3 separate regions of the Homo sapiens genome follow, and all the other regions are linked to region 3. Evidence: fine-mapped QTL for protein levels in blood plasma. A gene starts in region 3. Each other region holds a variant in brackets. All regions are shown on one strand. Distances are from middle to middle.

Evidence for each region. A credible set is the group of variants that fine-mapping cannot tell apart. PIP is the posterior inclusion probability: the model's chance that the variant is causal. The UK Biobank Pharma Proteomics Project read protein levels with antibody pairs (Olink). The fine-mapping took linkage between variants from a reference panel, not from the people measured, so its PIPs are less certain.
Region 1: its variant is the best candidate, but not a certain one, in a credible set for the plasma level of the EHBP1 protein (UK Biobank, PIP 0.78).
Region 2: its variant is the best candidate, but not a certain one, in a credible set for the plasma level of the EHBP1 protein (UK Biobank, PIP 0.61).

What each region holds. Positions count from the first base shown.
Region 1 is chr2:62,632,469-62,636,710 of GRCh38, forward strand. No RefSeq gene overlaps it. Among named protein-coding and RNA genes, the nearest start is that of EHBP1, 71 kb to the right of the region's middle. The variant GAAAC/G (reference allele first, on the strand shown) is at 2,269.
Region 2 is chr2:62,642,416-62,646,657 of GRCh38, forward strand. No RefSeq gene overlaps it. Among named protein-coding and RNA genes, the nearest start is that of EHBP1, 61 kb to the right of the region's middle. The variant C/A (reference allele first, on the strand shown) is at 1,769.
Region 3 is chr2:62,703,555-62,707,796 of GRCh38, forward strand. EHBP1 (EH domain binding protein 1) reads left to right here and starts at 2,159. Exons shown (of 23, transcript NM_001142616.3): 1 at 2,159-2,498; 2 at 3,343-3,741. The coding sequence starts at 3,638. RefSeq lists an enhancer at 1,866-2,005 and silencers at 2,036-2,295, 2,416-2,495.

The DNA.
Region 1 (4,242 bases), 71 kb before region 3:
AGTGAATCTCTTAATTTTCATGTCTTTTATAATCTGGATCATCTGAGAATTTCCCAAATCATCAAATCCTGGATTCTATTTGTTTAATTATTCTTTCCTCAATTTATTTCTTTCCTCTTCATTTCACTATAAGCACAGTAAGAAGAAACCAAGTTGTACTTCAAAATACTTTACTTGGAAATCACCTCAGCTAAATGTCCACTTTCATTGTTTCTAAGTTCTGATTGCCACATAACTGCAGGACACAATTTCTTAAAGTCAATCTTTCTACTAACAGTCTGTTCAATGCATTATAGACTTTTTAAAAATCATGATCTTCAGTATTCTTCCAGCTTCCACCAACCAATTCCAAAGTCACTTCCACATATTTAGTTATTTGTTACAGCAGCATCCAATTTCAGCTCCCCCAATCTATACTAGTTTTCTATTTTTGCCCTAATAAAGCACCACAAATTTATTGGCTTAGACAACAAGCATTTGTACTTTTATAGTTCTCTGAGTTAGAAGTTCAACATGGGGTGGCTGGCGGGATGGCCGAATAGGAACAGCTCCGGTCTGCAGCTCCAAGTGAGATTAACGCAGAAGGCAGGTGATATCTGCATTTCCAACGGAGGTACCCGGCTCATCTCACTGGGACTGGTTAGACAGTGGGTGCAGCCAATGGAGGGTGAGCCAAAGCAGGGTGGGGCGTCATCTCACCCAGGAAGCACAAGGGGTTAGGGAACTCCCTCCCCTAGGCAAGGGAAGTCATGAGGGACTGTGCCATAAGGAACGGTGCACTCCAGCCAGATACTACACTTTTCCCATGGTCTTTGCCACCCACAGACCAGGAGATTCCCTTGGGTGCCTACTCCACCAGGGCCCTGGGTTTCAAGCACAAAACTGGGCAGCCATTTGGGCAGACACTGAGCTAGCTGCAGGAGTTTTTTTTCATACCCCAGTGGCACCTGGGATGCCAGCAAGATAGAACCGTTCACTCCCCTGGAAGGGGGCTGAAGCCAGGGAGCCAAGTGGTCTAGCTTAGTGGATCCCCACCCCATGGAGCCCAGCAAGCTAAGATCCACTGGCTTGAAATTCTCGCTGTCAGCACTGCAGTCTGAAGTTGACCAGGGACACTCGCGCTTGATGTAGGGAGGGGTGTCTGCCATTACTGAGGCTTGAATAGGCAGTTTTCTTCTCACAGTGGAAACAAAGCTGCAGGGAAATCCCAGCTGGGCAGAGCCCACTGCCTCTTGGCAAAGCCACTGTAGCCAGACTGCCTCTCTAGATTCCTACTCGCTGGGCAGGGCATCTCCGAAAGAAAGGCAGCAGCCCCAGTCAGGGGCTTATAGATTAAACTCCCTGGGACAGAGCACATTGGGGAAGGGGTGGCTGTGGGCGCAGCTTCAGCAGAATTAAACATTCCTGCCTGCCAGCTCTGAAGAGAGTGGAGGATCTCCCAGCACAGCACTTGAGCTCTGCTAAAGGACAGACTGCCACCTCAAGTGGGTCCCTGAACCCTGTGCCTCCTCACTGGGGGGCACCTCCCAGAGGGGTTGAGAGACACCTCATACAGGAGAGCTCTGGCTAGCATCTGGTGGGTGTCCCTCTGGGACAAACCTTCCAGAGGAAGAACAGGAAGCAATCTTTGCTGTTCTGCAGCCTCCGCTAGTGATACCCAGGAAAACAGGGTCTAGAGTAGCCCTCCAGCAAGCTCCAGCAGACCTGCAGAGGAGGGGCCTGTTAGAAGGAAAACTAACAAACAGAAAGGAATAGCATCAACATCAACAAAAAGAACGTTCACTCAGAAACCCCATCCAAAGGTCACCAACATCAAAGACCAAAGGTAGATAAATCTACGAAGATGGGGAGAAACCAGTGCAAAAAGTCTGAAAATTCCAAAAACCAGAATACCTATTCTCCTCCAAAGGATCACAACTCCTCACCAGCAAAGGGACAAAACTGGACGGATAATGAGTTTGACTAATTGACAGAAGTAGGCTTCAGAAGGTGGGTAATAAATTCCTCCAAGCTGAAGAAGCATGTTCTAACCCAATGCAAGGAAACTACGAACCTGAAAAAAGGTTAGAGGAATTGCTAACTGAATAACCAGTTTAGAGAAGAACATAAATGACCTGATGGAGCTGAAAAACACAGCATGAGAACTTTGTGAAGCATACACAAGTACCAGTAGCCAAATCGATCAAGTGGAAGAAAGGATATTGGAGTTTGAAGATCAACTTAATGAAATAAAGTGTGAAACCAAGAGTAGAGAAAAAAGAATGAAAA[GAAAC/G]AAACAAAGCCTCCAAGAAATATGGGACTATGTGAAAAGACCAAACCTACGTCTGATTAGTATACTTGAAAGTGACGGGGAGAATAGAGTCAAGTTGGAAAATGCTCTTCAGGATATTATCCAGGAGAACTTCCCCAACGAAGCAAGGCAGACCAACATTCAAATTCAGGAAATACAGAGAACACCACAAAGATACTCCTCAAGAAGAGCAACCCTGAGACACATAATTGTCAGATTCATGAAGGTTGAAATAAAGGAAGAAAAGGTTTAGGGCAGCCAGAGAGAAAGGTCAGGTTACTCACAAAGGGAAGCACATCAGACTAACAGCAGATCTCTCAGCAGAAACCCTACAAGCCAGAAGGGAGTGGGGGCCAATATTCCACATTCTTAAAAAAATTTTCAACCCAGAATTTCATATCCAGCCAAACTAAGCTTCGTAAGCGAAGGAGAAATGAAATCCTTTACAGACAAGCAAATGCTAAGAGATTTTGTCACCACCAGGCCTGCCTTACAAGAGCTCCTGAAGGAAGCACTAAATATGGAAAAGAGAAACCGGTCCCAGCCACTGTAAAAACATGCCAAATTGTAAAGATCATCAACACTATGAAGTAACTGCATCAACTAGTGGGCAAAATAACCAGCTAGCATCGTAACGACAGAGTCAAATTCACACATAAAAATATTAACCTTAAATGTAAATGGGCTAAATGCTGCAATTAAAAGACACAGACTGGCAAATTGGATAAAGAGTCAAGACCCATTACCATGCTGTATTCAGTAGACCCATCTCACATGCAAAGACACACATAGGCTCAAAATAAAGGGACGGAGGAATATTTACCAAGCAAATCGAAAGAAAAAAAAAAGCAGGGATTGCAATCCTAATCTCTGATAGAACAGACTTTAAACCAACAAAGATCAAAAGAGACAAAGAAGGGCATTACATAATGGTAAAGGGATCAATGCAACAAGAAGAGCTAACTATCCTAAATATATATTCATCCAATACGGTGGCATCCAGATTCATAAAGCAAGTTCTTAGAGACCTACAAAGAGTCTTAGACTCTCGCACAATAATGATGGGAGACTTTAACACCTCACTGTCAATATTAGATCAATGAGACAGAAAATTAACAAGGATATTCAGGACTTGAACTCAGCTCTGGACCAAGCAGACCTAATCGACATCTATAGAACTCTCCATCCCAAATCAACAGAATATACATTCTTATCAGCACCACATAACACTTACTCTAAAATTGACCACACAACTGGAAGTAATACACTCCTCAGCAAATGCAAAAGAATGGAAATCATAACAAACAGTCTCTCGGACCACACTGCAATCAAATTAGAATTCAGGATTAAGAAGGTCACTCAAAACTGCACAACTACATGGAAACTGAACAACCTGCTCTTGAATGACTACCGGGTAAATAACAAAATTAAGGCATAAATAAATAAGTTATTTGAACCAATAGGAACAAAGACACAATGTACCAGAATCTCTGGGACACAGCCAAAGCAGTGTTTAGAGAGAAATTTGTAGCACTAAATGCCCACCAGAGAAAGCGGGAAAGATCTAAAATCAACACCCTAACATCACAATTAAAAGAACTAGAGAACCAAGAGCAAACAAATTCGAAAGATAGCAGAAGACAAGAAATAACAAAGATCAGAGCAGAACTGAAGGAGATAGAGACATGAACAACCCTTCAAAAAATCAATGAATCCAGGAGCTGGTTTTTTGAAGAGATCAACAAAATAGATGGACCACTAGCCAGACAAATAAAGAAGAAAAGAGAGAAGAATCAAATAGATACAATAAAAAATGAGAAAGGGGATATCACCACTGATCCCACAGAAATACAAACTACCATCAGAGAATGCTATGAATACCTCTACACAAATAAACCAAAAATCTAGAAGAAATTGATACATTCCTGGACACATACACCCTCCCAAGACTA
Region 2 (4,242 bases), 61 kb before region 3:
TTTACCTCTACCTGCATTAGGGCTCTCAGCTACTGCAAATCCATGATGCCAAAGAAATACATTCTTTTTAAAATGACAATGTATAGCCAGGCTGTATGGGACAGCATGGTCATTATCATGATTACTACTATCTTGGAGATAACCACCAGTGGTCTAGCAGTCATGTCCTGTCAAATACACCTTGTTCGGGAAGCTAAGGGACAGTAAATAAAAAAGGATAAGGGAAAGGTCAGTAAGGTAGAGTACAGGGGCTCAAAGCCTCAAGCAGAGTCCAGGGGATGGGAAGCAGGGCCAGAGAATAGCTAGTCAAGTGAACAAATAGGAAGTGAGCCTAGGGAACATCAAAGATAAGAATGAGGACAGGGTCTGTTCCCTGCACAGTGATGTGTAACTGGATCAACTTAGATGAAAGAACTAGGGACAAAGCAGACATATCCAACCAACAAAAGCAAGTTCAAGGCTTCAAAAAAAAAAACTGTTTCTTCCTATCTACAGAACTTCTATGCTTTAGTTGAGAATAAAATCTGTTCCAGAACATATGACTCTCTCAGTTCAGGTACCATTCAGGCTACTAAGAAAGGTCCCTTTTGCTCTTTCTATTCTTTCTGTACTTTCTGCCATCCTTGTACTTCCTCGTGTCCCTGGAATGGTCCAAACTTGTTCCCATCAACTTCATCTTTCACACCATGTCATTTATTTATATGCTCAGCCTTATTTGAATGCTTCTTCCTGTCTCCTCCACATTCAGGCTGCCAAAACGAATTCCCTACTGCAGAGAACTATATTCTCGGGCACTGGTGTGTTGCACTGTAAGGCTCCCAGCTTTTGGTTGCCTTAGCCTGTGTTTGCAATATCAGCGCCTAGAGTGGCTATAAAGCCCTATTCACAGAAGATGCCTTGTCAGACTCCTACACTGACTTCTTTTATTCCAATCCTTTGGGCTATGTTAAAGAGCTTTATCTGTTTCTCCCACTTTCCCTAGCGTTAGCCATGTGCCCATTTCTCCTGGCTATTTGTTTAAGTAGAGTGTACCTGTTTGGTCTGTCTGAACAGGAGTTACGAAGTCCTGTTGATGGTGGCTTACAGGGTTACTTGGGACCTGTACAGACTTACTATTTCTCAAATTATTTATACAGTTTATTTGTCTACATTCTCTTACCTCTGTATCTCTAAAATCCATCTTAATGCAATAAAGCCCTTAGTCCCAAACCAATTTTTTCTAATATATGTTTCCCCTAAAGCCCCAATACCTTCATTCCTTTATTCTGATTTATTGCTGCTGCCTAACCACAGCTACAAGGCAAATATTATAATAATAATAATAATAATTTAAAACCCTAGTAACAAACACATCGGGATTAACATACTAGGTCTACATTAAACCACCCAACAATGAACTAACTCATCTTTAATTTATTAGCTTGATTCTGATATAAATTCTGAATGAAAAGTAAAAGGTTGTGTAGATTAATAATATTAAAGTTGCAAAACAAACCCCTGAAAAATAGGAAACATTAAACAAAGAGAGCTGTGCCATCTTTAATTCATTGCCCTGTTTCTAGGTAATTCCTTGCATGCAGGAGGCAGACTCATGATTGTGTTTTAAAAAAGAACATGCAGTACCAAAACCATCCGTGAAAGGTATAAATCATCACAGCATACTACTCCAAACTTTAGGGCCTAACTCACATGTATTCTGTGTGATATTGGCCTAAAAAACATATCATTGTGACCTTTAATTAAGTATCACCTGCTTCTATAAGTTCTA[C/A]ACAGATAGGTCTATCATTCTAGAGACAAAAATTATAAGTCCTGAGACTTTGCTGAAGTTGCTTATCAGCTTAAGGAGATTTTGGGCTCAGACGATGGGGTTTTCTAGATATACAATCATGTCATCTGCAAACAGGGACAATTTGACTTCCTCTTTTCCTAATTGAATGCCCTTTATTTCCTTCTCCTGCCTGATTGCCCTGGCCAGAAATTCCAACACTATGTTGAATAGGAGTGGTGAGACAGGGCATCCCTGTCTTGTGCCAGTTTTCAAAGGGAATGCATCCAGTTTTTGTCAATTCAGTATGATATTGGTTGTGGGTTTGTCATAGATAGCTCTTATTATTTTGAGATACTTCCCATCAATACCTAATTTATTGAGAGTTTTTAGCATGAAGGGTTGTTGAATTTTGTCAAAGGCCTTTTCTGCATCTATTGAGATAATCATGTGGTTTTTGTCTTTTGCTCTGTTTATATGCTGGATTATGTTTATTGATTTTCCTATGTTGAACCAGCCTTGCATCCCAGGGATGAAGCCCACTTGATCATGGTGGATAAGCTTTTTGATGTGTTGCTGGATTCAGTTTGCCAGTATTTTACTGAGGATTTTTGCATCAATGTTCATCAAGGATATTGGTCTAAAATTCTCTTTTTTTTGTTGTGTCTCTGCCAGGCTTTGGTATCAGGATGATGCTGGCCTCATAAAATGAGTTAGGGAGGATTCCCTCTTTTTCTGTTGATTGGAATAGTTTCAGAAGGAATGGTACCAGCTCCTCCTTGTACCTCTGGTAGAATTCGGCTGTGAATCCATCTGGTCCTGGACTTCTTTTGGTTGGTAAGCTATTAATTATTGCCTCAATTTCAGAGCCTGTTATTGGTCTATTCAGAGATTCAACTTCTTCCTGGTTTAGTCTCGGAAGGGTGTATGTGTCCAGGAATTTATGCATTTCTTCTAGATTTTCTAGTTTATTTGCGTAGACGTGTTTATAGTATTCTCTGATGGTAGTTTGTATCTGTGGGAATCGGTGGTGATATCCCCTTTATCATTTGTTATTGCATCTATTTGATTCTTCTGTCTTTTCTTCTTTATTAGTCTTGCTAGCAGTCTATCAATTTTGTTGATCTTTTCAAAAAACCAGCTCCTGGATTCATTAATTTTTTGGAGGGTTTTCTCTGTCTCTATTTCCTTCAGTTATTCTCTGATCTTAGTTATTTCTTGCCTTCTGCTAGCTTTTGAATGTGTTTGCTCTTGCTTCTCTAGTTCTTTTAATTGTGATGTTAGGGTGTCAATTTTCGATCTTTCCTGCTTTCTCTTGTGGGCATTCAGTGCTATAAATTTCCCTCTACACACTGCTTTGAATGTGTCCCAGAGATTCTGGTATGTTGTGTGTTTGGTCTCATTGGTTTCAAAGAACACCTTTATTTCTGCCTTCATTTCGTTACGTACCCAGTAGTCATTCAGGAGCAGGTTGTTCAGTTTCCAGGTAGTTGAGCGGTTTTGAGTGAGTTTCTTTTTCTTTTTTCTTTTTTTTTAATTATTATTATTATACTTTAAGTTTTAGGGTACATGTGCACAATGTGCAGGTTAGCTACATATGTATACATGTGCCGTGCTGGTGCGCTGCACCCACTAACTCGTCATCTAGCATTAGGTATATCTCCCAATGCTATCCCTCCCCCATTCCCCCATCCCACAACAGTCCCCAGAGTATGATGTTCCCCTCCCTGTGTCCATGTGTTCTCATTGTTCAGTTCCCACCTATGAGTGAGAATATGCGGTGTTTGGTTTTTTGTTTTTATGATAGTGTACTGAGAATGATGATTTCCAATTTCATCCATGTCCCTACAAAGGACGTAAACTCATCATTTTTTATGGCTGCATAGTATTCCATGGTGTATATGTGCCACATTTTCTTAATCCAGTCTATCATTGTTGGACATTTGGCTTGGTTCCAAGTCTTTGCTATTGTGAATAATGCCACAATAAACATACGTGTGCATGTGTCTTTATAGCAGCATGATTTATAATCCTTTGGGTATATACCCAGTAATGGGATGGCTGGGTCAAATGGTATTTCTAGTTCTAGATCCCTGAGGAATGGCCACACTGACTTCCACAATGGTTGAACTAGTTTACAGTCCCACCAATGGTGTAAAAGTGTTCCTATTTCTCTACATCCTCTCCAGCACCTGTTGTTTCCTGACTTTTTAATGATCGCCATTCTAACTGGTGTGAGATGGTAGCTCATTGTGGTTTTGATTTGCATTTCTCTGATGGCCAGTGATGGTGAGCATTTTTTCATGTGTTTTTTGGCTGCATAAATGTCTTCTTTTGAGAAGTGTCTGTTCGTGTCCTTCGCCCACTTTTTCATGGGATTGTTTGTTTTTTTCTTGTAAATTTGTTTGAGTTGATTGTAGATTCTGGATATTAGCCCTTTGTCAGATGAGTAGGTTGCAAAAATTTTCTCCCATTCT
Region 3 (4,242 bases):
GCTGTTCTTAATTCCTTCACTCATTTAGTAAACGATTCTAACTTTGATCTCTTCTTAGCTACCTTGGTGTCTAGAAGGAAAAATAAGAGTTTACATCCAAGACAAATATTTCCCCTAAAAAGAAGAGCTGTCATAAGAAACTATCAGTCTCTTGAAATTTTCCACAACTTGAGGAAGATTCCCTAGGGATCCTACTCCTTTATTTTTTTTTAAGACACCATTTAAAACTTATTACTTTTAAGGGAATTTCTTTACAATAAAGTCAGTCTCTCTATTTTTTCTCTCTTCCCCCTCTCCCTTTGGAGTAAGGGAAGCATGTTAAAAGAAACCAGAATGACCACATAAGAAAGTTTGAGAACTTCCAGAGAACAGTAATAAATAGGGTGCAAAAACCTTCTGATCATCATGTGGATTGTTTCTGAAGGGTAACTTGGATGAAAATAATTTATGACCATTTCTACAAATAAGCCATTAAAAAACTCCACACACTTAAAGCCTACTAAAGATGCAGAATATATTATTATATGAGATCATAATGGCTGTAGGTTGTAGTGACTTCGTAAACCACTCAGGAAGGACATCAGAGAACTCTTAATAGAAAATAAGAATCAATATGATTATTACGATTATCTTAACATTTTAGAATTGACTAGCAAAATAAGCGATAACTATGCTGTTTTCTGTAAAATGCACACTGTGCTCTTGTATTATTAGATCATTTTCTTTATTGAAAGTGGAAATTGAATTAGATACTGGATTCAAGCCTTATATCTGTCTCCCCATCTCTCTTGATTCTTCAACATGTCTCTCCACTTTGTCTTGGCCCCCAATGTCTACAGATGGACTCAATTCTCACCCATCACTGCTCTCTCTTCCTGTCCCTGAAAGAATCCTCCCTAGACCCTAACACCTTTCAAGCTACTTTGTCCATGCACCCTGCTTTCCAACCTTCGTAAGATTGAATGATCCTTGTTTCCAGAACCCATCCCGCTTGCTTTCTTTTTATGTTAGCTTGCCTCTCTTTTTTTTCCAAACTGTCTGCCCATAGCTTGCTGATGCGCCTACTTCTCTGATTATTCCTTCTCGGTCTCTTTCCCATTTTACTCTGTTTATTCCTTAGATGCTAGGATTCCCCTGAAGTTTCATTCTTTGTCCTCTTTCTCCACACCAGGGGTCTGTGAACCACCTAAAACTGAAAACAATTTTTTGTGTTTTGAGACAGAACACTTTTTCCCCCTTGAGAAAGTATCTGTAGCTTTCATATTCTCAAAAGGGCCCTTGGCTCTTTTAACAAGATTGAGTGTCCCTGCCCTCACTCTGCCTCCTCCTTTTTGCCTTTGACCACCCTTTTTATATGCTAGCTGTTCCCAAATCCATCTACAGTTCTCACTAGGGGCAAAAGAGTCCGACAGCGAAGAGGAAACCAAGATTCAAAGAAATGTTGAAGACTCCGAACAATAAGAAATTGTACTGTACACATTTTGTGTCTAGCTCAGCTGATTCAATCCCACTGAAGACCAGTTGACTCTATGTTGGGCGGGGAGCGGCCGGGGTGTCGGGGGGTGCCTGACAGGGTCATTACTTCAGGTTGTCAGGTAAGATCCCAGGAGGAACTGGTGAAATAAAGGCTATGCGCAAAAACCCTAGTTGCCAGTGGCGGAGGAGAGGGCGCGCCCAGGTCCTGGCGGAGATGAGAACAGGAGAGAAACCCACAGGCAGCTGCACTGCCCACAGCTGCAGCGAAGCCAATCTCTAGGTCTGCAATCACCCTTAGGGGCCAGAAACCCAGCCCCGCACCAGCGGCGCCTTTGACGGACAGCCACCTTCTGCAATCACCTTGCAGTTCACTATAAACACTCCCTATTCCTCCCGCCTATCGCTTCCCTCTCCAAGCCAATCAGAAGAACGGGCGGGATCGTCCTTAGTCGGTTCCTTCTTTTTTTTTTTAAAAAAAAGGTAGCCTGTGCGTCGCATTCCGGCTTCGGGGAAAAACCACCTCCCGAGCAAGGGCAAGGCGGAGCCCCTGTGATGGGCAGGCAGTTCTACCAATGAGGTGCCCCAGCCGCTGTAAGACCCGGCCGCCGAGGTGGGCGGGGCACGCGCGGGGCCTGGCCAATGGCGGCGGGGCGGTGGAGGTTGAGCTGCCGTGGGTAGGGTTAGTGTGAGAGGTGCGGCGGGGGAGGTAATGATGATGGTGGCGGAGGAGAAAGGCGGGGGAGGGGGTGCTGGGCGCTGAGCGGTGGCTCTGGCAGGGCTTGGTAGGGTGGGGGACGGTCGCGGGGCGATCTGTCAGGGAGGGGGTGGGCGTGAGGGGCGCCGTCCGCCTGAGGGGCTGCAGATCCCGGCTACCGCGAGCGCCGTGGCTGGCTTGGCTGTTCCATGTGGCTCCGGCGGGGATGGAGGACTCGGTGGCGGCGGCGGCTGCTGCTGCGGCGGCGACGGAGGAGCGGCTATGAGAAGGGAACGGGGCCAGACTCAGCCCGACAGCGGGATTAGAGGTGTGAGGAGGGGGCGGGAGTGGACGAGCGGCGGGGCCGGGGCTCGGGGTCCGGGCTGGGGTCTTCTGGTATCGCCTGGGTGACAGGGACCGCGGACGAGCCACCGCCTGTCTCCGCTGGGGGGCAGGGGTCTGGGCTCCGTGCGTGAGGAGACTGGGCTCCGGCGGACTGTTTCCCTGAGGATGGGGGAGGGAGGCACCGCACCCTGCACAGTCCACTTGCCCCGCTGGTCATTGCTTCACCCCCAGGCAGGAGTTTCCATTTCCCTCCGGTTGGCAGCGAAGGAGCCCAAGTGGCCTGGAGCCGGGACATTGCCCTCTCTCTGCCTGGAGATTTCCCTCCACTCCTCGTTCCCCATCCATTTCCTCCCTCCGACTGAAAAATAGCATTCCTCCTGGCTCCCTAATTTGTTCCAAGCACATATTGTCGGACTTGAGGCTATTAATTATCGACTGAAAAACAAAGTTTATTAAAAAATACTCCACTTCTCCCTCTTTCTGGCGGTGGACATTAAACAGCATCCCTAGACTTTCCCGCTCTGCTCGCCCTTCAGTGATGCTAACAGGGGGAGGTAGGGCCCCGAGTTACCGTCTCTCTGGATTGTTGTTGGTGCTGACTACCTGATGTGTCGCTCCACGTCTTCGGTGTGAATTGTAATTTCTTCCTTGGTGTCTTGCATCCTTGATGTTACTGGCTTTTGAGGTCAGTGTTTTGTTTCATTGTTTAAAAGACATGCAGAGAACTGGGATGGTCTTTTGCAGCGTTATTTAACATGGGTGGTTAGTCATTTCTCATGATTCTCTCCTCATATTCTTTCTCTTTTTGTCTTTGTTTTGCTTTTCAGCCCTCCAGAATACCCATCATATAGCCCCTGAGGTGGCATGGTGATGTCTCCATGAGGGAACCCCTTCCCACTCATCCTGTCACGTATATCATAGTGTTCTTGACTGGGCCATTCATCTAAGATGGGATTTACCCTGTGAAACAGGGAGAAGACTTATGGACCCCAAGCATCATTTCGAGTTGTAGTTGAGTTTTTAAAAGACATACATGCAAAGTTCCTTTGCTTTGGACCCTCTGCATTATTAAAGCTGCTGTATTGCTAACCCAGAACTGCTCCAGTGTCTTGACTGATCATCATGGCTTCAGTTTGGAAGAGACTGCAGCGTGTGGGAAAACATGCATCCAAGTTCCAGTTTGTGGCCTCCTACCAGGAGCTCATGGTTGAGTGTACGAAGAAATGGTAAGATGTACCTGGAGGTAGATTTTGCTGTGCTGTGGCCTAAGCATACTGTGGCCTAAACTCTGGGTCTTCTGATAGTATATTTACCTTTCTATAGTGCACTAGTGTGTAGAAGCTGGGTGGGGCGCAGATAACTCTAACAAGTACTGTGCTGTGCACTGTTGCTGCTAGTACCATCCCTGTGGATTTTAATTACTGCGCTTCAGTATGGCTCAGAGGACTGTAACTGTGAGAGCACACTAAATACAATAGATTTGGTTTTGAGGTTATTCATCATTAGTGTTAAAATAACTTTGATTTTTGTAATTTTAAGGAGACAAAGAATGGCTACTGAAATATTGTGAGCATTAATCCGTATATTTTAATATAACAGGCATATGATTTAATAGAGTTTTAATATAGAAGTCTATATTCTTGTGGGGTGATGGTAATCTATTTTATTTTTGTTTTTTCATTTTTCCTTGCTTAGGATAAAGAATTTTTCATTATTTGATTAATGGA